7 linked regions of the Homo sapiens genome follow. The protein of the gene in region 2 interacts with the protein of the main gene of each other region in a biochemical or structural test. Each region holds a gene or a part of one and is shown on either strand. Other genes may lie near its edges.

Region 1 (3,500 bases), on a different chromosome or scaffold from region 2:
TCACTTGAACCTGGCAGGCAGAGGCTACAGGGAGCCACTGAGATTGCACCACTGCACTCCAGCCTGGGTGACAGAGCGAGACTCCATATCAAAAAAAAAAAAAAAAAAAAAAAAGCCAAAACACAAACACACCCCAATTAATGCTATAAAATGAGAGGGAAAAATAAATAAAAGTGGTCTTGAGCTAGTCCTAATCCTTACTGGGTTTTAGTACCCCATCTCTAATATAAGGAATTGAATAGGATGACTCCCCCAACCCCACTATCATGTTCAACTTGGACCTTCTATGAACCAACAAAATGTTATTTGCCTTGCCAAACACATTACAACAGCCCAGAGAGAAGCTACTTGTTCTATTTCAGACAATACATGATCCTAGCAAGGCAGGTGCTCTCCTGTGAGCATAAATGGATGCTGGCTGGGGTTTGACAATAACTATGACAATAAATGCTTATAAAGCACTTAGTATGTGTCAAGCTCAATCTACATTATTTAATTCTCCCAACAATCCTAATAGGGAAATGTCACCATTATTCCATTTTTACAGATGAGGAACTTGAGACAAAGATAAACTTGTTCACAGTAAGAGAAAGGGTGAATCCAGGATCTGAACCCAGGGAGTCTGACTGCAGAACATGTCCCCATAACCACAAGTTATATCCAGGAAGCTCTGATAGAAGGCAGAAAGTTAAGGTCCATGAAGAGAGTTACCTGCTGGATTCCAGTAAGCTCTTTATTCAACTCTTCCAGCTGGTCAGCTATCTTCTCCACAGACTTCTCCAAATGTTTCAACTTCTTTAGTTCAACCTCTTCCTGTGGACTGTTCTAAAATGTTTAAGAAGAAAATAAAGCCAATAGTCAAAAAGAACAGGCTGGGCATGGTGGCTCATGCCTGTAATCCCAGCACTTTGGGAGGCCGAGATGGGCAGATCATTTGAGGTCAGGAGTTCAAGACCAGCCTGGCCAACATGGTGAAACACTGTCTCTACTAAAAAAACAAAAAAATTAGCCAGGCATGCTGGCGTGCACCTGTAGTCCTAGCTACTCGGGAGGCTGAGGCAGGAGTATAGCTTGAACCTGGGAGGTGGAGGTTTGTAGTGAGCTGAGATCGTGCACCTGTACTCCAGCCAGGGTGACAGAGCGAGACTGTCTCAAAAAAAAAAAAGAAAAAAGAAAAAGCAATCAACAAGAACAGCAGCCTCTGTCAGGAAAAATACCTGACCACACCTGCATGAAGCCACTCACCTAGAAATAACAGTTTTAACTCTGTTGCTTCTTGGAAATCAAGTCAAAGGGTTATACATCAAGTTTTCCATCTACAAAGACTCCAGACTAGAGAGAAGGTGTTAGGTAAACATTCTGGTGAGGGCCCTGACAGCTTGGGTGCAGAGAATGGAGACAATCCAAGTGCCAGATTCAGTCTCAGCCCTATACTGATCAACAACCAAGACTGAAGCCTGGAGGGTAATCACATTTCAGTAAACACTTGTGAGGAGTCCAGAATGGCAAGAAAGGTGGAATTCTACCATTCCTTTAAATGGAATTCCTAAATGGCAGCCTCCAATTGAGCGCTCCTGTTTAATGTGATGCTGGTTAACAACGATGAATACTTTTATTGAACACTTCCTACATGCCACACACTATCCTAAGCACCTTACCTATTTTTTAAGCCTTACCACAACTCCATCAGGGAAGTACTGCTGTTTTACAGATGATGAAACTGAGGCTTAATGTAGTAAAGTAACATGAGATCACACAGTCCAAAAGAGGTAGATTAGACTTAAGTTCAGACTTTTTTCTTTTTTGAGATAGGGTCTCACTACGGTTCCCAGGTTGGAGTGCAGTGGCTGTTTACAGGCATGATCATAACTCACTGCAGCCTCAAACCCCTGGACTCAAGTGATCCTCCTGTCTCAGACTCCCAACTTGCTGGGACAATAGGCATGTGCCATGGTGCCTTCCTTGAGTTCACACTTCGCTCCATACGCTCTGTGTCAGCTCCAAGTAAAAGTCCTATAGTTTCTTCAAACTTGACTCTTTGGTTCTGCCTGTTGCCCATCACCATTCTCCCTGACCCTGAAGCAAGAAATTTAGAATATTTCCCTCTTCTCTCAGGTAAACAATTGATAGATAGGTCTAGCAGCTTTCTGCTTAGTTATGCTATCCCAAATTATTCACTTCTCTTTGTGGCAAGTCCTGAGTTCCAGTCTCCTGGCAGTTCCAAGTCTGGATTAGATTTTTTTTGCCTTCACTTTGTTTATCTGCCCTCTCTCTACTCAGCCACCTAACTCACAATAAGGGAACTTCATATGCTCATAATTCTGCTGTGTCACAATGCAGGGCTGGCCACAGCCCTCTCTCATCACCTTAAGGGTTGCTGACCTCATCTGTCTTTTTTTCCCCTCAGTTCTTTAGTCTGAACCTTCCTTTCCAGTCGAAGGTTTTCCCTTGTGGGAGATTTTAGTTAAAAGGTTGGTTAAAGGGAGAGAGGCTCCTGAACTGGAACAGAGTGATTATTCTTAATATCTACAAGTTTATTTTAACAAAAGACTCTTGCAAATTCTACTCCAAGTGAATGAGACCTGTCCCAGGCACCATTTTAACCAGACCAAGATTCCACCACCAAAACAAAAAACATATTATTAAGGCAGCACAACCGCTCCTAATTCCTAGAGCAAAAGTTCTAACCAACAGGAGCAGGAGGGTATGAGAACAACAAAACTGGTAATCCTGTAAAACCAATAAAGATTGTATTTGTTTAGAGAGGTGTTTTATCAATGCAGAATCTGGGTCCCCAGTTTGGTCTTCTAAACAGAAACATGTATAAAAGACTTCAGTCATTTGATTCTGAGGATTTCTGATGGAAAAAGCAATTTACCTTTTTCCCAATTAACATGACCCGGCAACCATCTTGTATTCCAAGTGCTGACAACGGTGTTTCCATTTCCTTCAGAGATTTTCCTAAAAAGAGGAGAAAGGTAGGCCAAGTTGTAATAATTGTACAACACTGAAAATAAATTTCAGCAGGATACAGGAAATAGACAAGTGTGTTCACTAATGAGAACTGGTATCTTTTTAGAGGGTGTCATGACCCAGTAATTTCATTTCCAGATATTTATCCTAAACAAATAATTGGACATGCGACTCCACAGTAACTACTATACGATAATATTCAGTGCAACCTTTTCATAATAGTGAGAAACTGGAAAGAGCCAAATATTCAGGAATCAGGGACCAACGAACCACACTACAGAAGACTTTAAAGTCTTCAGTAGGCATTAAGGTCTACAGTAGCCATTAAAGCTCATTTTTTGCAGGAAACCCCAATACCACAATGAATGCTGATGACACAGTGTTATTATGAGGGGTTTTATCCAGGGGAACATTTTCTTTTTCATGCATTCCTCTATTTTGAAACATGAATTTCTATTGTCTTTATAATTCAGAAATAAAATATTTTTAAAAATTAAAGACAATATGTTACACTATGAAATATAAAT
Region 2 (3,500 bases):
AGGGACGGGTGTCTGCACGCCTGTCCCTATGGAGGCGGGGCTGGGGGGGGCCCTGGAACCAGGATGCAGGATAGATGGTGACTGACACCCACAGTTCGTCCTGCCCGTGGGGGATTTTGACGGGTGGGCATGGCCCTGGAGGAGAAGGGGGTGTTTGGAGGGGAACAGGTCACACTCTCGGGAAACAAAGTGGGGAGGCTAAGCCTCGAAGTGTTTCCAAGAGCAAGTCAGAGCTCAGAGAAGGGTCCTGTCCCAGACTTCACTGGGCTTCTAGGGGATGCTATCTTATTGCTTTCCAATTCCCCATGGAAGCGGCCAAGGCCCTCTGTGTGGTCAGGCTTGGTAAGGAGGACCCAGGAGATGAAGTAGCAATGGGAGAGGAGGGACACAGGCTGGGGCCCTGGGGCTGATGACAAGAAAGCAAAGCTGGGGTGGGGGTATTGACGACTCCTCCTTCCCTCGCTGCACACGGCCCCTCTCCACCAGCAGCACTCCCCAGCTGGCCGAGGCCCAGGGTAATAGATCTTTCCCCTCCCTAGACTCTGGGCAACTCCAGGGCAGGGATGTTGTACCCATGTGTACTGAATGAATGAATGAAGGAAGGAACAAATGAATGCATGCATGCATGAGGCTGGTATTCCCTGCCCCCTGCCCCCAGCACTAAATGTGCACCGTGATTGACAAGCAGCTGTCACTATCACTTCAGAGACCCAGGCCAGCTCTCCAAATCCCCACAGGCCCTTCCACTGCCTCACTAGATGAGGCTGGGGAGCCCTGACTCTGCAGGCACTTCCGGGAGCAGCCCTCAACACACCACTGAATGCTCAGAGCTATGTGGCAACTGGAGATGCCCTCCGGGCTCCAGTACTGATTAAAATTCAGGTGTTTCAGACAGAATTTATGCTGGAAATTTTAGATACCTTTAAGAAAAATAGGTCTTATCTAGAGCCATGGTGGGATTTTCCAGGAAAAACGCCACTGTGCAATTACGGGAGCATTTCCCCAGACATTTCCCCAGTCATTGAGACAGTAAACAATGGGTGAAGTGAAATACTGAGAAGGATGGGCGAAGATCTGGGTGCAGTTTATGCAGTGAGAAGATGGCTTCATTTACTGTCCTAGGGCTGGTTTTCAAACACACCTTCATTTACTGTCCTGGGTTTGGTTTTCAAACACACCTTCATTTACTGTCAGGGTCTCACTGAAAGTACACTAAGAAAGCTGGAATTAGGAGCATGACTTCATGAACCTGCCAACTGCTCTTCCCTGGGGTAAGTATCAAAACTAATAAATGCTGGACTTTTTAAAAGCCTGCCCCAAAATACAAAGCACTTTAAATGACAGCTGTACTTTAGTGACAAATACTCCCCACATTATATATGAGAATGAATCAGACATAAAGCACAGCTTCTCTGTAAACTTGACCAGCTGCAGAGCTCCGTGGCATCGTCAGCTTACCTTGGCTTTTTTGTCATCGCTTCCAGTCCCGTCTTTGCTTTTACTGACCATGCGAGCTGATAAAATATAAAATAAGAATGCTTGTCACACTCCATTTTCACTGTTCACAGAAAGCCAGCTGTGGTGAAGCTGGATTTCTCTGGGATAGGTCCATGTTTGTTTAGTTGGGTCTGGTGGAAACCCAGTTGGTTCTCTTTTCCCTTGAATCTGCTAGGCCTCGCATTGTTAGTATCAACACAGCACACTGGGGTCACTGATTAGCGCAACCTGGCAAGAGGGGGCAGCAGGCTGGCCGAGGGTGGGACCATGCAGAGGGGACGCAGCAGAAACTGTCACGGGGACATGATGGCATGGAGGCTATCTAAGGAAGGTGCAGTCTCCCTAACCCACAGGCTCCTGCCCTGTTTCTGCCAGGGTCAGCCTCACCCCACTGGGACCAGCCCCACTCCATGGATGGGTGTTTTAAAAGCCTCAGGGCCATGGATGTTGGTAGCTCAGTGAGGACCCAGCCTCCTGCAAGATCCAAGGATGGGGGTGGGTGCATTGTCTCCACACTGCAGCCAGGCTTGGCCCTGATTCCCTGTGAGGTGCCTGCTCACCCTCTTGGCCTTGGAAACTGCCTGGAACCACCCGGCTCCCCTGCCCATGTGGCTAGATTGCCAGCAGTCCTGATTTCCACCTTCCTGGCCATCTTATGCTGACCAACCCATCTCCATTTCTGGTCACACGCCTCCAGAATAGGAGAGGCTGGCAGGGTTGTCTTTGTCCCCTAGTTGCTGGTTGTACCCCCAGGGCCTGCCCCTCACTAATGGTGGCTTTGGCCACCAGCCCCAGCTGCTCTGAGACGAGCCAAGCCCAGCCCAGCCCTGAGCCAGGCCTGGTGGGTTTCTTGCCACTTACTGGTCTTCAAAGGGCACGAATTCTCACTGCTTCCCCAAATTAGCTACAAACCAGTTACCATCATACATTCCCACAGACAACATCAGCCTTCATCACACTCCTTGGTGAAACCAACCCGCTGACCTGTCAGCCAGCATCAGCGCTAACTCACCCTTCTCCTTCTCTTGACAGTCACTGCTGAAAACTGATCATAGATTTTCTTCTTTGGTTTCAATATCACATTCCCTCTACCCCATGGACAACTGGGTCTCTTGGAGCTTCTCATTGGCTATTGTCACCTGGATTTCTAGAGGGACCAGCAATGAGTATGCCCAGAGGTTTTCCAACTATACTATGTGGCAGAATCACCTGCTAAAAGACTCCCAGGCTTACCCCACAACTGGGTCTGTAAGCCTAAAGTGGCACCTGGGAACCTGCACTTTAGTAAGAGCCCCAGGCGGATCTGACTCACGTGTTCTTTGTTTTGCCCACATCAACCAGCACCATCCACGGCACAACAAAAGAATCTGCTAAATCGGCATTTCCCAAACTTCCTCCAGGAAATGTTAGCAGGTAGAATCAAGTAAGTTTGGGAAACCCACTCTGTGACCTTCTCAGAGGGTCACAATGGCCATTAGTACATTAAAGGCTCTGACAAGTCCTGCAGCAGAAAAGCCTGTTTAACTTACTTTAGTCTTTTATTTTTTTCCCCCAGTCACTGGGCCATGGAACTCTTTTTTAATCCAAACACACCTATGAACCTCTAGTAGGCCAGTATTCAAGAAAACATCATTTCAGGAAATATTGTAGTAACCTGTCAAGTCAGTTATTTGTCCCCTACTGTTTTGGAATTTAACAAAGGATATAGGATATATTTTTTTCTCTCTTAACTTTATTTTATTTTATTTTTTGAGACAGAGTCTCACTCTGTCGCCCAGGCTTAGGGTACAGTGGTGTGATCTTGGCTCACTGTAACCTCTGCCTCCTGGGTTCAAGCACTTATCCTGCTTCAGCCTCCCCAGTAGCTGGGACTACAGGTGCCCGCCACCACGCCCAGCTAATTTTTTGTAATTTTAGTAGAGACAGGGTCTCACCATGTTGGCCAGGCTGGTCTCGAACTCCTAACCTCAAATGATCCACCTGCCTTGGCCTCCCAAAGTGCT
Region 3 (3,794 bases), on a different chromosome or scaffold from region 2:
ATCATTTTAATGATACAAGGGAAGATGTAGGGAGTTAACTAAAAAAGCACCGTCCTCACTCAATATTTTCTATATTTGAAGTCCTACTTTGAGCTTTCTTAGCCATGTGACTTTGGACAAGGTACTTCTCCAAATCTCAGTTTACTCACCTACCTCTTGTGAGGATTAAATGAGATAATCCATTAAAACCCAGAGGGTGGAACATCTTTAATGCCTGTAAATTCAACCTGCCATCTTTCCTCTCACCTGGCCCTGCTCTGAAGATAGATAGTGGATTCTTTTGGGACAGGGTCTCACTCTGTCACCCAGGCTGGGGTGCAGTGGCTCACTGCAGCCTCCACCTCCTGGGCTCAAGCGATCCTCCCACCTCAGCCTCCCGAGTGCTCGGACTACCAGCGTGCACCAGGTGGTGGATTCTTAAGTCTTCTTTATCCAGTAGTATTACTGGCTCTTCCTGAGCCCAGAGAGCTGCCCATGAATAGCACTGGGAGCATTGAGGCTCGCTGAGAGTCACTTTTATTGGGAACCATAGTTTTAGAAACACAAAAATAATTCTTTCACGGGATTGGTTCCAGGAGCCCAGAATATGAGTGGCCCCCTACTCTCCAAACTGATCAATGACCTTCTGTATCCACTTCTTCAGGCGGAACACATGTGTGTAGAAGCCATATTTCCCATCCCGGTCACAGCCTTCACCCCATGAGACGATGCCCATTTGATACCAGCGGTTGTTAAAGGGGCTCTGAAGAAGAAAGATGAGGTTTCCAATAGAGTCAAGTTCAAGGTCACATCAGTATTCCCCTGCCAGGCAACTGTTTCTAGATACTAGAGTTTCTCCCCACCCCCAGAAGATGTGTTCACCAGGCCCTGGGCTTTAGAGAAGCTTACCTTCATGACAAAGGGTCCCCCACTGTCACCTTCACAGGCATCCCCTCGTTTCCCTTCATCAGGCTTGTAACCTTGAAAGAGAACAGCCGTCTGTGCTCAGGAGCATAGCTCATAGCCCAGCCACGCCCCTTCACGAGACACAGCTGGTGAGAGTCCACTTACCCCTCCAGTCATTCTTGCTGTCCCCACTTCCTCACCCTACCCATCCAATCCTAGCAAATCTTGTCGGCTCTACCTTCAGCATAGACCCCAAATCCAAACCCTTCTCACCACTTCTAGCTCGAGCTCCTGAACCCACTAGTTTCCTTCATTCTTTGCCCACCTACAGTCTATTCTCCACCCAACAGGCAGAATAATGCTTTTAAAAAGTTGGACCAGACCAGGGGAGGTGGCTCATGCCCAAGCCGGGTGGATCACTTGAGCTCAGCAGTTCAAGACCAGCCTGGGCAATATGGCAAAACCCTCTCTCTACAAAAAATTAGCTGGGCATGGTGGCACATGCCTGGAGTCCCAGCTACTCGGGAGGCTAAGAGAGGAGGATCACTTGCGCCTGGGAGGTTAAGGCTGCAGTGAGCCGTGATCATGTCACCACACTCCAGCCTGGGCAACAGAGTGAGACCCTGTCTCGAAAAAATTAATTAATGATAAAAGACCAAGAAAAAAATTTAAATTAAAAATTAAAAAATTAAAAAGTTAGACCTACAAGTCTGATGAGGATAATAATGATAGTTGCTTTTATCCAAATCTCCCCACGTATCCTCTACAAACAATACAGAACAACACTAACAACAGTAAAACCTACACAAAAAAACCACACCTTCACTAGGTGCTGTGGCTCACACCTGTAATCTCAGCACTTTGGGAGGCCAAGGCGGGCGGATCATGAAGTCAGGAGTTTAAGACCAGCCTGGCCAACGTGGTGAAACCCTGTCTCTACTAAAAATACAAAAATTAGCCAGACATGTTGGTGTGCGCCTATAATCCCAGCTACTCAGGAGACTGAGGTAGAATTGCTTGAACCTGGGAGGTGGAGGTGGAGGTTGCAGTGAGCCGGGATTGCACCACTGCACTACCGCCTGAGCGACAGAACAAGACTCTGTCTCGAAAAAAAAAAATTAGCCGGACATGGTGGCATGTACCTCTGATCCTAGCTACGTGGGAGGCTGAAGCAAGAAGAGGATTGCTTGAGCCCAGGAGTTCAAGGCTGCAGTGAGCTATGACTGTGCCACTGCACTCCAGCCTGGGCAACAGAGCAAGACCCTATCTGAAAAAAAAAAAAGCTAGCAAGAGAACAGCAAAGTAAACCAGACAAAAACGTAAGCAAACTTTTTAAGAGAAAAAAGCAGAAATTAATGAACCACAATAGAAAAATAATAGGCCTGGCCGGGCGCAGTGGCTCACGCCCGTAATACCAGCACTTTGGGAGGCTGAGGCAGGCGGATCACAAGGTCAGGAGATCGAGACCATCCTGGCGAACGCGGTGAAACCCTGTCTCTACTAAATACAAAAAATTAGCTGGGCGTGGCAGTGTACACCTGTAGTCCCAGCTACTCGGGAGGCTGAGGCAGGAGGATGGCGTGAACCCGGGAGGTGGAGCTTTCAGTGAGCCGAGATCGCACCACTGCACTCCAGCCTGGGTGACAGAGCAAGACTCTGTCTCAAAAAAAAAAAAAAAAAGGCCAGGCACGGTGGCTCACACCTGTAATCCCAGCACTTTGGGAGGCTGAGGCAGTCGGATCATGAGGTCAGGAGTTCGAGACCAGCCTGGCTAACATGGTGAAACCCCGTCTCTACTAAAAATATAAAAAAATTAGCCGGGCATGGTGGCGTGCACCTGTAACCCCAGCTACTGGGGAGGCTGAGGCAGGAGAATCACTTGAACCCAGGAGGTGGAGGTTGCAGTGAGCTGAGATCACGCCACTGCACTCCAGCCTGGGCGACAGAGTGAGACTCCATCTCAAAAAAAAGAAAAATAATAGGCCTAATAATTTCATAAATCAAATCCCTAGATATTTGTTTTGAGAAAACCGGCAAGCCATTAACTAATTTACTCAAGAAAAATAAGATATTACAAATACATAAAATAAGATACCAATAGAAAAAATTATAAGAGAATACATTGCAGCAGTCAAGAAAGATACAATAATAGACTTGAGCAAATAGGAAAACGTTTCTTATCCTTGGATAAAATGACTCAACATCAAAAATATGTCCATTCTCCCAGTTAATTTGTTGAAGTGTCATAATCCCAATAAAATTACCACCAAGCTTTTTTATAGACCTAGGCATGTTGACACTAAAGTTCATATGGAAAAACAAACATGCAAGAATTGCCAGGAAACCACTGGAAAGAAAAACTAAAAGAGAACATTAGCCTTCCCAGCTATGTACGCTAAAGCCTCTATCATTAAAACAATGTGACGCTGTACACAGACAGACAACAGACCAGGAAAGCCGAGTCGAACATCCAGAAACATACTCATCCTTAAGCATACTCTATCCATAGAAATCTAGAACGTGGGGCTGGGCACCGTGGCTCATGCTGGTAATCCCAACACTTTGGGAGGCCAAGGCAGGAGGATCACTTGAGCCCAGGAGTTCGAGACCAGCCTAGGTAACATAGCAAGACCCCGTCTCTACAAATCAAATCAAATTAGCTGGATGCAGGAAAAAATAAAACTAAAAAATAAAACCTAGGTCAGGTATGGTGGCTCACGTCTGTAATCCCAGCAGTTTGGGAGGCCAAGGCGGGAGACTTGCTCGAGCCCAGCCAGGAGTTTGAAATCAGCCTGGGCAGCACAGGGAGACTTGTCTATATTTCAAATAAATAAATGAAAATAAGATACAATCTAGAATGTGATAAAGGTGAAATCTCAAATCACTAGTTCAAAGATTGATTGATTGAT
Region 4 (3,500 bases), 1.6 Mb from region 2:
TGCTCACTTTAAAATCTTACACCCTCAGACAGTAGCACCAAAGGGAGGGGTGTCCATCTGCATTCTTGAAATGTGCACGGAAGTGGGGGAAGGTAGAAAAATTTACACCATATCGTAAAGCAGAAGCTACTCAACTGTGATTAGGAGGGAAGCCCTTTTGAAATCAGTGATTTGAAAAGATAAGGCAGGGTAACACATCATTAACATACCTATAAGTAACAAGGCCCCAGTTCTCCATGGCACCTTCACAAAATAAATATAAACATTTATTGATATATATATATATATATATACTCTTGCATCAAAAGTCACAAAATTTTAAAAAGTTATTACAATTCAGCAATAAAATGAAATTTACTTTACCAGCTGCAAAGTCTGCAATAGCAATGAGATCAATTTTAGGTAGAGGATAAGGAACATTGAAGTAGTCCTTATAAAAAGGCAAGGTTTTAGCAGCAACCTATAAAAGTATAAACAAAATAACCATCTAATAAATATGTTATTATAATTCATATTGAAACCCACAAAGGAATCCTGTTGCAAGCCAATGTATCTTAAATTACTAGAAATGAATCCCGAGGAGCCCTACCCTCCGAAGACTGCCTTAGCTCCAAACTTTGAATACAATGGCCAAACTTTAATCCATTTATAACTTGATATGAAAAATATAACTACATATTTTCCAACCCATTCCCTAGAGAAATTCCACTCTTATATTCTCTTAATTATTATTTTGTAAAATAATGAAACACCAAGGTTGGCATTTCCTAAATTCTACTAAAAATAAACCAAGTAGCACAACTTTCAGATTAAATTATAAATAACTGTACTAATAATTGACCAGAAATGTAAATTCCCCAACCTGGAGTTATGGACTGTTGGAACAATCCTCTTCAAGTACATTTACCTCTAACGCAAATTTTCCTTGCTCTGCTTTGCCAACAGGAGTGTAAACACGGACACACACACCATCTTTTGACCTTGTTTCTACAAAGTCATATTCACCCACAACAAATGCCACCAGATATGTAGACATAACAGGTGTGCGGGCAAACTTCACTTCCACTAAATTTTCATCATCAGGGTATGGTTTCCGGTCAATTACATTCTTTAAGAAATAAAAAAAAGAAAAATTTAAATAGGTTTACATTAATACCATAGAGCAAATACCAGCCAAAAACTGTAGGCTTTATTGCATCTCTTTACCCCTTTCTATTCTAGCATGGCTTATTTCTCTACCCCAATTCATCCAGTGCTTTTATGCTGTCTTTAAGAAGGAAAGTGGTCTGATAAAACACTCATACTAAGAAGCTGGAGGCTGAAGTGTTAAAACTACCAAGGACCTGTGAAAGAAAAGAGGAATGGACTTTTCTCAAATACTTATTATAAGCCAGGCATTGGGATGATTTAAGTTAAGGGCTTCATACTTTTCAACTGACATAAGTTTAGGAGAAAATGACTATTAATAAAAATAAAATAGGGGCTAGGCGCGGTGGCTCACGCCTGTAATACCAGCACTTTGGGAGGCTTAGGCAGGCGAATCACAAGGTCAGGAGATCAAGACCATCCTGGCTAACATGGTGAAACCCCATCTCTACTAAAAATACAAAACATTAGCCAGGCATGGTGGGGGGTGCCTGTAATCCCAGCTACTTGGGAGGCTGAGGCAGGAGAATGTCGTGAACTAGGGAGGCGGAGCTTGCAGTGAGCTGGGATCACACCACTGCACTCCAGCCTGGGCGACACAGCGAGACTCCTTCTCAAAAATAAATAAATATAATATAATTGTAGAATCTCCCATTTCAAAGGATACAAACTTCTAGATCGAGGGCATTCTCTACCAAAGTTGGCTCTAAGCTTATTTGTGAAGAAATTTCAACTTTACCTTTGGAGTCCCTAATTTCCTTTGGTGTTCTCCCTCTTTTTCCTATTCAGGCTCTGTTTCCTCAAGCTCTCTCTATTCTTCCTTCCAAGGAAGACTTATTCAAGAACACACTGATAAATTCACTCATACTAAAGTGTGAATGAATATTTCCGTTTAATATATTAGCCTCCTCTTCTAAGAATATGTGAGAAGAGAATGACATTCTATTTATGGGATGCTCTCCCCCAATAAATACATAAAAGAGTTATTTTCAGGTGCAGCAGGTTTTTCCAAGTTCCCCACACAAGACAGTCCTAGACAACACACTTCAAGTGGGGAATGCTTACCCTGTTCATGAATGAGATCAATAACACTGGTGAAGAGAATACATTCCAAGAATACAAACAGCCAGAGACCTAAATATACTTCATTACGCAGCTACATCTTTTGAATTTTTTTAACTTTTTAAAAACATAAGAGACAGGGTCTTGCTCTGTTGCAACCTTTTTTTTTTTTTTCCCCCGAGATGGAGTCTTGCTCTGTCACCCAGGCTGGAGTGGAGTGGCGCGATCTCAACTCACTGCAGCCTCCACCTCCCAGGTTCAAGCAATTCTCCTGCCTCAGCCTCCCAAGTAGCTGGGGTTACAGGTGCCTGCCACCATATCTGGCTAATTTTTGTATTTTTAGTAGAGATGGGGTTTCACCATGTTGGCCAGGCTGGTCTCGAACTCCTGGCCTCAAATGATCCACCTGCCTCAGCCTCCTGAAGTGCTGGGATTACAGGCATGAGCCACCATGCCTGGCCTATTTTTTTTTTTTTAAGAGATGGGGTCTTGTTCTGTCACCCAGGCTGGAATACAGTGGCACAATCACGGCTCCCTGTAGCCTCAAACTCCTAAGTTCGAGAGATCCTCCCACATTAGCCTCCCAAGTAGTTAGGATTACAGACACGTGCCACCATACCTGGCTAACTTTTAAGTTTTAAATCTTTTGTAGAAATGAGGTCTCACTATGTTGCCCAGACTGGTGTCAAACTCCTGGCCTCAAGCAATCCTCCTGCCTTAGCCTCCCAAAGCACTGAGATTACAAGCAAGAGTCACTGTACCTGGCTTTCTTATGACATTTAATAAGTCAAGACCTTTTTCTTTTTTTTTTTTCTGAGATAGGGTCTGGCTCTGTCACCCAGGCTGGAGTGCAGTGGTGTGATCTCAGCTCACTACAAACTCCGCTTCCTGGGTTCAAGTGATCCTCCCACCTCGGCCTCCCAACTAGCTGGGACTACAGGTGTGTGCAACCACACTCAGATAATTTTTGTATTTTTAGTAAGGACAGGTTTTCACCATGTTGGCCAGGCTGGTCTTCAACTCCTGACCTCAAGCGATCTGCCTACCTTGACTTCCCAAAGTGCTGGGATGACAGGTGTAAGCCACCATATCCAGCCCAAGACCTTTTGCTTTTAGTTACTATAAATCTATTAAACTTGTCAATTTACCTCTCTAAATTAAAAGAAGTAGATAATCTTATAAATGTATTTAACGAGGAATTTGACAAAGAGAAAATCCTCCAAAAATAAAGCTATCAAGAAAAAGAGGTCTTGGCTGGGCATGGTGGCTCATGCCTGTAATCCCAGCACTTT
Region 5 (3,500 bases), on a different chromosome or scaffold from region 2:
TCCTTCAGGGCAGTTCAGAAAACGCTGCATTCAGTTATCCACACACGGTTTTCATTCAAGCATAAGTTAATGTGAGTCTTCTAAGATGTAAATTCACTGATACAGATTGTTGTGCTTCTTTAACACTCTCACTTATTTCCAAGATCCAACATACCTACCCCCACGCCCCGAAAAGCAAACAAACAAACAAACAAACAAACCACAAGTCCAAGTCAGATATCAGGCATTTGTACATTGACAGGTTTATTCTTAAAGCTTGAACAAATACATCTTTACACACACACAAGTTGGTAAAAAGTAAGCCCTTACTGCTTTGTTAAAAATAAAACCCATACATAAAGCTTTCCGGTCAAATTCCCGAAACATGAAAACATCACATTTCTACAATACATCTGCTTTTTTGATTCATGTGTGTTTTCAACACAGCTCAACAACTCATTCCGATCTACCCAAACAAAGAGAAAACTAACTTCCAGACCATGAAGGAAAAAAAAATACATGCCTCTTATAACTGTTAAAGACAAGTAGCTATAGAATTCTGAAAATTCTCAATAAATAGTTACTAGTATAAAAATGCTTAACTCCATATAGCTCACCTTTAATCAAAGGCAGTACCAGTTATCGCTATAATAAAGCACTCAAAGAACATCGAAATAACTTCATATCTATAGCAACGAAGGGAACATGGAACATTAGCCCTCCTAAACAATTCCAGAAGAGGGAAGTTCATTATGAATTAATACTTGGAAGATTCTAGCCCAGCTAGAATAGATTTTAAAAAACTACAATAAAGTATATAAATATGAAATTCAGAAAAGCAGATAAAGAAAAGCTGTCACTTAATAACACAGGTGGCAGCAACCAAAAATATCATTCCCTCTGGGGGGAATTAATGCTAGATTAATGTGAATAAAATAAAGGAAAATGACATAAAATGAAGATACAAAATAAAATTGATCCTTGATGTGAGAATAACTGTATTCCTTGCATGTTCAGAATGTCCTTATGTTCTTCTAGAGAGACTTAGAAAAAAAAAGCCATGCAAATAAAAATCTCATTACATGCCAGCTGAGTGACTTGCAAAGGTTTGCCCCAGAAGGGCTTTTTAAAGAGGCTAAAGACATTCTAATTGCCATCCAAATTGATGTTTACACCAAAATAAGAAGAAATCATCTACTCCCAAAGCAAATCCTATCTATGGACTTCATAGAATCCCTTATACTTTGTAACATTTTCTGCTTCCTTCTTAAAAACCTAGGGGGAAGGTGAGCTCCTGGGACATAAATACGCAGGGAAAGAACCTCATTAAGCCAGGCAGAGGATGGCAAAGATCAACAAAAGAAAAGAGTCCACCGCACTCCAGCCTGGGCAACAGAGCAAGGCCGCATCTCTAAAAAGTAATAATAAATAAAAGGAAAAAGATGCAAGCAAATTTCTGCAAATAGAAGCGTTCACCCCACAGATGAGAAAAGGGGACTCAGTCGTAACCAGGAGAGCCCGCGCAGGCACCTTGGTGGTCTGAATCTAATAGATGCCACTCTCAAATTCTGAGGAGGATGAATTAGCTACTGCTTATCAGGCAACTAACAGAGCCGGCAACAGAAAGGTTACAAGGCCACCTTCGCAACCAGCCCTTTGAAACTGGAAACAAAGTTTTGGCCAGAGATGAACACGCACCCATATGTCTGAAGACAAAAGTTTTTTAAGAGGGCACGGACTCCGGATCTTTTATCTTATGAATAGATCCACTTTGGTTGGTAATTCTTCTGCCTGACAGGCTGCCTTGGGCTACTACACAGCTGATATGAGTGGACAGCAAAGAGCTGTGTAAACCTGTCTAAAACAGTGCACTTGGTGGCTACATACGGCTAATCGCTGCTAGTGTTTAGAGTCTGTGGCTGACTCATCTCAGTACGGTGACCTGGACTGCAGCAAGATCGGGCACAGCTTCCCTTAGGTGGGAGAAAGAAGGAATACCATGGAGGTGTGTGTGGATGTGTACGCACACAGGAGAGAGTCGGGGCTGGTGGGGAGGCAGAGAGAGAGAAAGGAAAGGCCAAAAGGAAAGTTAAAGGGATTTACTTTATTGATGCTAATGTAGGGGTCAGCTAACAGTAACAAGCTACTACTATTATTTCCCAAAGATGGAACAAAGGGTGACGTTACCCGTTGATGCTAGATGATGTCCTCAAACCTGACGTAGTAAAGGAAAATCAACACATTGTCTCACAGCTTTCTTACCTGGCAGCTGGCACCACATTAGAATCTCCATGGCCGTGCATGGTGGCTCATGCCTGTAATCCCATCACTTTGGGAGGCCCAGGTGGCAGGATCGCTTGAGCCCAGCCTGGGCAACACTGTGAGACCCCACCTATATTTAAAACAAAGGAATCCCCAGTCTCTTTGAAGTATGTGCCTTAGAAGGAAAGTTTCAGGACACTCTGGCACTTTTTTTCTAGTCTGGGAAGGGATCTGTGGGCTTTCTACAAGGGAGCAAACAACCTCAATTCTTTCCTCTGGGATCCCGTCAGCTTCTCCTTCCCCAGAGGTCCTGACATTGCTTACCAGCCATTGACCTGAAATGAACTGCTTCAACGTGTTCTGAAGGACCTTTAAATAAGAGATGGTAATAAATCCAGCTGCTACAGAATGACAAGAAGAACAGTCATGATTGTAGTCAATTTTAAAAATAGACATCCTTTCCCTTCTTGCTCCCTCCCATAAATACTAAATGGAAGAAGACACAAATAGAAAGAGAAGAAAGTATTTTTAATCTATTAAGAAAATGAAGAAAACAACCTAATCAATGTGGGAAACCATACAAAAAAAAAAAAAAAAAACAGAAAATATTACATAACCAGGCCTTTTAAATAAGGATGGAATTCAATAAAAAACTTAAAATGCTTACATCTTCTGAAATAACCCATGATTAGCTCCAAGTTTTAGAAAGTTCTTGAACAAAAGGTACACATCAAAGTAGTGAGGTAGCAGCCCCCACTTTCCCAAAAAGTTTTCAGGAAAAGGCTGCACAAGCACCTGTTGGTGAGGTCACCAGGAAGGAATCTGCTTCCGGCAGGAAATTGCACTGGGTGAGCTCTAAGGCTCCTAAACTCTAAGATTCTCGTATGTGCTGAAAACACTGCTATGACGACAGTTTGATCTGATCATCTATGCATTCCTCTGAAATAAATGAAGTCAATTCAAATAAGACATTCTACAAATTAGCCAAGCACAATGATATATTTTAAACCCACACTCAGACCGACAGTGTACACCATAAATTTGTACTAGAACAATACCCATAAATATAAAAAATCTACTTAATTTTATACTTTGTTAGTTCCTACTTCAAAATGCTAGTCAATATTCACTACAGAGAAGTGGGTAAAGATACTTTTATTTTATTTTTTTTTTGAGACAGAGTCTCACTCTGCCCCCCAGGCTGGAGTGCAGTGGCGTGATCTCGGCTCACTGCAAGCTCCGCCTCCCGGGTTCATGCC
Region 6 (3,500 bases), on a different chromosome or scaffold from region 2:
GCCTCAGTGAAGGCTGTGGGGCTGTCATCAGGGCAAGCAGGAAGCCATTTCGACATTGACAACAGGTACAATTACACTGCCATGCTGCTAAGTGACCTGTTTCTAGGCTTCCTAGATTCTGTAAGATTTAAATGATAAACATATAATGTTTAAAAATGCAGTCACAATCTCTACCTGGCCCCAAAAAGAGGCCCCCAGCCCCTCCATTCCACCTTAGAGTACTGTGCAGACACCCCCGGTTCCCAGAAAGGCCTGAGAGGAAGAAACCGGGCTGCCTCCCTGCATGAAGGAAAGCCAGGGAGAAGCAGCCCACATTCAACCAGGGACGCTCCGCTGTGAGGACCAAGTCAGGGAGCTAAGACCAAATGAACGAATTCGCTTCTTGTTTCCTTTTTTAAAATCAAAGAGTATGACAAGAACAGGCATTTTAGAACATAAATTACTAACAGATAAAATAATGCTCAATCTCACAAAAATCTTCTTTAAAAACCCAAAATGAATGCCCATTTTTAGTCTATCACTTGGCAGCGATGGAAAGCAAGCAGACTCGGTGCTGGCGGGAGAAGCAGAAACAGGCGCTTCCTCAGGCCACAGAGGGTGTGCAGTGGGCACTTTCTCTCCAGGAGGCTGATTTCTGAGGTGTGAAATGCACACACTTCCCCAGCCAGCAGGCCCTGAAGCCCAGCCCACCCAGAACTAACAGCACGGCCGCAGGAGCAAGGAAGACAAGGACAGCCTGGTTCTACCAAGGACAGACGCAGCAGTGGAACCATCTCCACGGGCTGCCTGCCAGCTCTGTGAACCCCAGTGCGCCAGAAACACGCTCATCTGAAGACACTGCCATCTGTCAAAAAACTGTCATCACATACTAATTTAACAGGAAAAGCACACTTTACTGCCGTCTGCTGGAAGACTGTGGTGATAAAGTCCCAAGCTTGTGTGGGTGCTCTGTGTGGCCAATGGGGAGGTGGCTAAGGAGGTGCTCTCCCCGCACCCTGGGACCCTCTCTAGTCACCCCCGAAATACAACCTGAGGCAGCTTCCCAACACCTCACTTCAATTTCAAGACAGCAGAGGAAAGACAGTTCTGCCCCTTCAAGTCTTGAAAATCACTCAGAACAAAGAAGACAAATGCCAAGTACAGATCCAAGTGACGCCTGGATCGGGGCTTGGCTCCCAAAATGCCTGGAACCCAACGCTACCCTGTGGGCAGCAGTGAGGGTACCCACAGCACCCGCAGCATGAGTGGGGCAGGTGCTGACCTCCCCCACTGCCCGCTCAACTCTGGGATCCAGACCCACTGCTTGAGAGGTATCCCAGGAAGGAGCACATCATGACAGGTGTCCACTGTCTGGCCTTGCCGGTCCTTCCCCACAGGTACCTGTGGCCACCCACCGGGTAAGAACAGCCAGGCACTCTTGAGGATGAATGGACACAGCTCTAAGTAGACACTGAAACCCGAAGACCCCAAACACTCTCAGGGCTCCTCCACTTGCAGGGTTCGTGGGGTCAGGGGTCAGGGGTCAGGGCATAAGTGAAGTCTGGGCCAGGTCTCTTGCGGCCATGTTATGGGAGGGTGGGAACGTTAGCAAAGGCTTAGAGCAAGGCTGTGAGAGAACATTGCTGTCCAGCCTGCAGCAGTGTGGGCGCTGTCTGGGCCTCTCTTCTAATCAGTGTGGAGGATGCATTTGCCCCATCAACATGCCAGACCTGAGGCCTTATTAATCTGCTCCAGCAACAACTGCACCTTGACATGCACAGCAGCTGCGGCCAGGACTGCCAGTGCCGTAAGCCTGTGGCCGTCTGGGGTCATTCTCCAGAATCCATGCAGCTTCTTCAAGGGCTGGACTAACGAGTTAGACTGGGATGCAAGATACCACTGTCTCTGCTCCCCTGAGGCTTCCATGGTGGCCCTAGTCTCCTCCACCCACCCCGGGCCCTGCAGGGTGTGATCTTGTTTTTGATTTACTATCTTGGGGGCAGTTTCAGGTTTCCATTTGGCCTTCCCACTGTGACGACTCTTACTCACAGGCCAAGGAACTCGTGTGGGCGTTACTCCACCTGCCAAGCGCCTCCGCTCCGGCTACACACTGAGGACTGGGGAGACGGCCACTGGGTGGCCTGGGACCCTGTGGCCCACTGAGAGCCACCAGACACAGACGGCTCAGGAATGAAGGCCTGGGACACAGGCCAGGCAAGCCACAGAGGCCTGCCAATGTGAGAGCTGAGGGTATGAATAACAGGAAAGGGTAGGGAAAGAGCCAGCAGAGAGACCACAGTGACAGGGACTACAGGGTGTCCCACTAACCTCTGTCTTCCAGATTTCCCCTGAGGAAGAGAGAACCATGGGCGCCACAGGAAAGCCATTCCCAACTTATGTGGAGAAGTAGAGCTGAGGGGGCCAGGGTGGACTGTGGGGTCCACGGAAATGCACTCCTTGGTCTCCCGCCACAGGAGTGAGAGTGACAGATGGCCCAGTGTGGTGTCTGCACCTACCCTCTGTCCCTGCCAGGGCACACCTCCCACAGAGCCGTCAGCCAGGGGCCGACCGGGCAGGGATGCTGAGGCAGGCCCGTTCCTGTGTGACACCGGAGGCCCTCAGAGCTGCACCGCAGTCTGGACCAGGCCTCTGAGGGGCCAGGACTGCACTACGTTCAGCTAGCATTTGCTGCCTCCTCTGGCTGCTCCCCCTTCCTTCTCGCACAGGCCTCCTCCCGGCCAGTCCCTCGCCTGTCTAACCCACCGTGGCATGCGGAAGCCGCCCACGAAAAGCCCCACGCTACAGGGACAGGAAGCTGCAGGGCCGCCCAAATGCCCTAGCTGAGCGAAGGAAATGCCAACCTCTATAAATGGCCACGACACCCAGGAAAGGCTCAGCAAGTGAAATGCAGGTGCTATGGAGGCAGAAGAGGCAAGGGTAGCACTTGGAGAAGTTTTCATTTTATTGAAAGTCCAAGTACGTAGTAGATGTCCCAGATCCCCATCTCCATCCCAGAAGTGAGGCTCCACTCCTTCCTCACTCCTGCTGGCCCTTCACGCAGAGAAACTGATGCCCAGCTTCCAGGTGCAGGGCCACAGGCGCCGCATGCACAGTCCTGTGGGTACCAACAGGGAAGGCACGGTGAGGCCTGCCTGCAACAGGGCTGCCTGGTGAGTTTGCGCTCTGCCACATGAGAAGCACAGCCCTGTACCCCAGCAGCCAGGCTTACATCCCTCCACCAAGGGACTGAAGGGGCCTTTTCCAGAGAAATTAAATGGTGCCCAGAGAAAAAACCTACAGAAGGTGACACCTGTGGCTGCCTGTGGTCCAAGAGACACCCATTCTTTAACAATTTACCCATTCACTCAGTACTTCCAGTCAGCCTTTAATGCTTCAATCTCTTTTTTTTTTTTTTTTTTTTGAGACGAAGTCTCGATCTTGTTGCTCAGGCTGGAGTGCAATGGCACTATCTCAGCTCACTGCAACCTCCGCTTCCTGGGTTCAAGAAATTCTCCTGCCTC
Region 7 (3,500 bases), on a different chromosome or scaffold from region 2:
TATGCCGTTTAGTAAATTCTTCAGGGACTCTTAACAAGCTAAAGACTTAAATTTTAAAATGAAAGTTGTAAGTCAGTTATTTGAAGTGGAAGAAGCCTTTAATGGGTCGTCATCCAGTCTTAAGAATCTGGCTGATAAGGGTTTATTTTGTTGATAACTTGTTTTAAAAGTGTTTTTTTTGGAGACAGGGTCTTCCTCTGTCACCCAGGCTGGAGTGCAGCTGCAACCTCTACCTCCCGGGCTCAAGCGATCCTCCTTGCCTCAGTCTCCCGAGTAGCTGGGACTGCAGGCAAGCACCACCATGCCTGGCTAATAAATTTTTTTTAAGCTCTGGGGAGAGAGAGATTTATGCTGGGTGTCTTAAAGGCTTGGGAGTGTGTTTTCTCATTTGATTTACTCATTTGCTCTTCAGCGATTTCGTAGTTACATTTCTTTAAATCCTAAGTTATAAAAGTTTGTCTCATAATTTACATAAAAGCTCTTAATTTCGGACCTATCTTGGAGAAGGCTGGGATTTTTAGGACCTTCCCCCACTTAAGATTTTCCGCTTAACTAACCTTGCCAGAGGGTGCTACTTCGCATTTTCTTTTTGAATCATTGTCGTTCGACCGATTAAAAATAGAGAAAAAGTAAAATGTTTTATTTATTTTAGAGATGTTGGAAGTTGTTGTTTTTCCTGTCTAATGTCTTGTATATAATTAGGAAGTTGTCCAGAAACTTGCGTCTCTGATTTTGGTAAAAATCTTCCTGTCATTCAGCTGTGTAGGAACGAATCTCCAAAATAAAATTGTCCATCTTTAGCCTGCAAAACAAATTGTCGTAGTGAACATATGCTATATTGTTAATTGCTATAACTTGAGTATCTGATGGTGGGTGGCCTTTGTTCAGTATTGATTTCCTGTGCACTGTAACCTGGCAACTGGATTTTTAATTTTTCTTCCTGTGTTCAGTTAGACTTTAACTAGAAGGCAGTAGAAACTGGAAGTGAAAAATTTCTTGAGTGCAAGCCAGTGTTTTATTGCTAAATTAAGATTCTCCTGACTAATTGGATTTTCTCGGTTTAAAAATCTACAAGCTATCATTTTTGGGTCTTGTGGTTAGCGATTGTCTCTTTTCAGGGGAAAAAAAACCTTTGTAAATATCAACTGTTCAGAACCAATCTCGCTGTTAAACACCTAAGATCATATTTACGTGAGCTCAAAAAATACTCTAGTGAGCATATTTTGCTATGGAAATAGTGTATTGAACTTTTTACTATTTACTGTGTGGATCGGCAATTACAGTTTTGGGGTTTTTTTTGTTTGTTTTTTTTGTTTTTTTTTTTTTTGAGACGGAGTTTCGCTGTCGCCCAGGCTGGAGTGCAGTGGCGCGATCTCGGCTCACTGCAGGCTCCGCCCCCTGGGGTTCACGCCATTCTCTTGCCTCAGCCTCCCGAGTAGCTGGGACTACAGGCACCCGCCACCTCGCCCGGCTAATTTTTTGTATTTTTAGTAGAGACGGGGTTTCACCGTGTTAGCCAGAATGGTCTCGATCTCCTGATCTCGTGATCCGCCTGCCTCGGCCTCCCAAAGTGCTGGGATTACAGGCGTGAGCCACCGCGCCCGGCCCATAGTTTTGGTTTTTGTTTGTTTTTTTGAGATGGAGTCTGGCTCTGTCGCCCAGGCTGGAGTGAACTGGTGCGATCTCGGCTCACTGCAACCTCCGCCTTCTGGGTTGAAGTAGTTCTCTGCCTCAGCTTCCTGAGTAGCTGGGATTCCAGGTGCCTGCCGCCATGCCTGGCTAATTTTTTTTTTTTTTTTTTTTTTTTTTTTGAGACAGAGTTTCTCTCTTGTTGCCCAGGCTGAAGTGCAATGTCACGGTCTCGGCTCACCGCAACCTCCGCCTCCTGTGTTCAAGCAATTCTCCTGCCTCAGCCTCCCGGGTAGCTGCGATCACAGGCATGCGCCACCATGCCCGGCTAATTAGTAGAGATGGGGTTTCTCCATGTTGGTCAGGCTGGTCTCAAACTCCCGACTTCAGGTGATCACCCGCCTCGGCCTCAGAAAGTGCTGGGATTACAGGTGTGAGCCACTGCATCTGGCCTAATTTTATATATTTTTAGTAGCGATGGGGTTTCACCATCTTGGCCAGGCTGGTCTTGAACTCCTGACCTCATGATCCACGCGCCTCAGACTCCTAGAGTGCTGGGATTACAGGCGTGAGCTACTGCCGCAGCCGGCAATGATAGATTCTAGAATGAGGCTGCTTCCCTGCTTCCTCGGTATACCTTTGTAAATTTTTTTTTTTTTCTTGAGGCGGAGTCTCATTCTGTTGCCCAGACTGCAGTGCAGTGGCGCGATCTTGGCTCACTGCAACCTCTGCCTCCTAGGTTCAAGCGATTCTCCTCTCTCAGACTCCCAAGTAGCTGGGACTACAGGCATGTGCCGCTATGCCCAGCTAATTTTTTGTATTTTAGTAGAAATGGGGTTTCGCCGTTTTGCTCAGGCAATCATCCCACCTTGGCCTTCCAAAGTGCTAGGATTACAGGTGTGAGCCACCACGCCCGGCCTTTTTTTTTTTTTTTCTTTTAAATGGAGACGGGATCTTACCGTGTTGTCCAGGTTGGTCTTGAACTCCTGGGCTCAAGTGATCTTCCTCCCAAAGTCCTGGGTTTACAGGTGTGAGCTGCTGCACCCGATCCTTGGTATACCTTTGAACTTGCGGTTTTCCGGGAATATTTCTTCTTTTCTGAGACACTGTCTCACTACTTTGCCCAGGCTGGAGTGCAGTGGTGTCATCACTGTCTGCAGCCTCAAACTTGGGATCAAGCCATCCTCCTGCCTTGGTCCCCCAGTAGTTGGGACTACAGGTGTGCACCACCACACCCAGCTAACTTAATTTTTTTTAGAGACGGGGGTCTCACAATGTTGCTAAGGCTTATCTTGTCTCAAACTCTTGGGCTCAAGCAGTCTTCCCTCCTCAGCCTCCCAGAGTGCTGGAATTGGAGCCACTTGCTCATTGATATTTTAACTTCACCTTCAGCATATGCTCTTTTCCCATTTTGTATTCTGAAGCTGAATAAAATGTGCTGTTGGGGCTTTTCTGTGCCTCAGGTGCTCATTCACATGAAGCCACACTTCATTTGATAGTGCCAATGTCAGCTGGGCACGGTGGCTCACACATGTAATCCCAGCACTTTTGGAGGCCAAGGCGGGCAGGTCACTTGTGGTCAGGAGTTCCAGACTAGCCTGGCCAACATGGTGAAACCCTGTCTCTACTAAAAATACAAAAATTAGCTGGGCACCGTGGCGGGTGCCTGTAATCCCAGCTACTTGGGAGGCTGAGGCAGGAGAATGGTTTGAACCCAGGAGGCGAGGAGGTTGCAGTGAGCCGAGAATGCGCCACTGCTGCACTCCAGCCTGGGTTACAGAGTGAGACTCTTTTTTTTTGAGATGGAGTCTTGCTCTGTCGCCCAGGCTGGAGTGCAATGGTGTGATTTCGGCTCACTGCAAGCTCTGCCT

Evidence for each region.
Region 1: the proteins of MAPT (region 2) and BAG1 form a complex in vitro, tested with the Homo sapiens proteins (one study listed by BioGRID).
Region 3: of the proteins of MAPT (region 2) and F2, one has a biochemical effect on the other in vitro, tested with the Homo sapiens proteins (one study listed by BioGRID).
Region 4: of the proteins of MAPT (region 2) and NPEPPS, one has a biochemical effect on the other in vitro, tested with the Homo sapiens proteins (one study listed by BioGRID).
Region 5: of the proteins of MAPT (region 2) and RPS6KA5, one has a biochemical effect on the other in vitro, tested with the Homo sapiens proteins (one study listed by BioGRID and IntAct).
Region 6: of the proteins of MAPT (region 2) and MAPK9, one has a biochemical effect on the other in vitro, tested with the Homo sapiens proteins (2 studies listed by BioGRID).
Region 7: the proteins of MAPT (region 2) and PTGES3 form a complex in vitro, tested with the Homo sapiens proteins (one study listed by BioGRID).

What each region holds. Positions count from the first base shown.
Region 1 is NC_000009.12:33,258,209-33,261,708, forward strand, and holds part of BAG1 (BAG family molecular chaperone regulator 1), read right to left. Parts: intron 2,962-3,500; coding exon 2,879-2,961; intron 826-2,878; coding exon 712-825; intron 1-711. UniProt on the Homo sapiens protein: Co-chaperone for HSP70 and HSC70 chaperone proteins. Acts as a nucleotide-exchange factor (NEF) promoting the release of ADP from the HSP70 and HSC70 proteins thereby triggering client/substrate protein release.
Region 2 is NC_000017.11:45,985,054-45,988,553, reverse strand, and holds part of MAPT (microtubule-associated protein tau), read right to left. Parts: intron 1,515-3,500; coding exon 1,459-1,514; intron 1-1,458. UniProt on the Homo sapiens protein: Promotes microtubule assembly and stability, and might be involved in the establishment and maintenance of neuronal polarity.
Region 3 is NC_000011.10:46,736,213-46,740,006, reverse strand, and holds the end of F2 (prothrombin preproprotein), read right to left. Parts: intron 960-3,794; coding exon 889-959; intron 743-888; coding exon 599-742; 3' UTR 501-598; downstream 1-500. UniProt on the Homo sapiens protein: Thrombin, which cleaves bonds after Arg and Lys, converts fibrinogen to fibrin and activates factors V, VII, VIII, XIII, and, in complex with thrombomodulin, protein C. Functions in blood homeostasis, inflammation and wound healing.
Region 4 is NC_000017.11:47,583,108-47,586,607, reverse strand, and holds part of NPEPPS (puromycin-sensitive aminopeptidase), read right to left. Parts: intron 1,109-3,500; coding exon 908-1,108; intron 461-907; coding exon 364-460; intron 244-363; coding exon 210-243; intron 1-209. UniProt on the Homo sapiens protein: Aminopeptidase with broad substrate specificity for several peptides. Involved in proteolytic events essential for cell growth and viability. May act as regulator of neuropeptide activity.
Region 5 is NC_000014.9:90,847,642-90,851,141, forward strand, and holds the end of RPS6KA5 (ribosomal protein S6 kinase alpha-5), read right to left. Parts: 3' UTR 220-3,500; downstream 1-219. UniProt on the Homo sapiens protein: Serine/threonine-protein kinase that is required for the mitogen or stress-induced phosphorylation of the transcription factors CREB1 and ATF1 and for the regulation of the transcription factors RELA, STAT3 and ETV1/ER81, and that contributes to gene activation by histone phosphorylation and functions in the regulation of inflammatory genes.
Region 6 is NC_000005.10:180,250,584-180,254,083, forward strand, and holds part of MAPK9 (mitogen-activated protein kinase 9), read right to left. Parts: intron 1-3,500. UniProt on the Homo sapiens protein: Serine/threonine-protein kinase involved in various processes such as cell proliferation, differentiation, migration, transformation and programmed cell death.
Region 7 is NC_000012.12:56,681,785-56,685,284, reverse strand, and holds part of PTGES3 (prostaglandin E synthase 3), read left to right. Parts: intron 1-3,500. UniProt on the Homo sapiens protein: Cytosolic prostaglandin synthase that catalyzes the oxidoreduction of prostaglandin endoperoxide H2 (PGH2) to prostaglandin E2 (PGE2).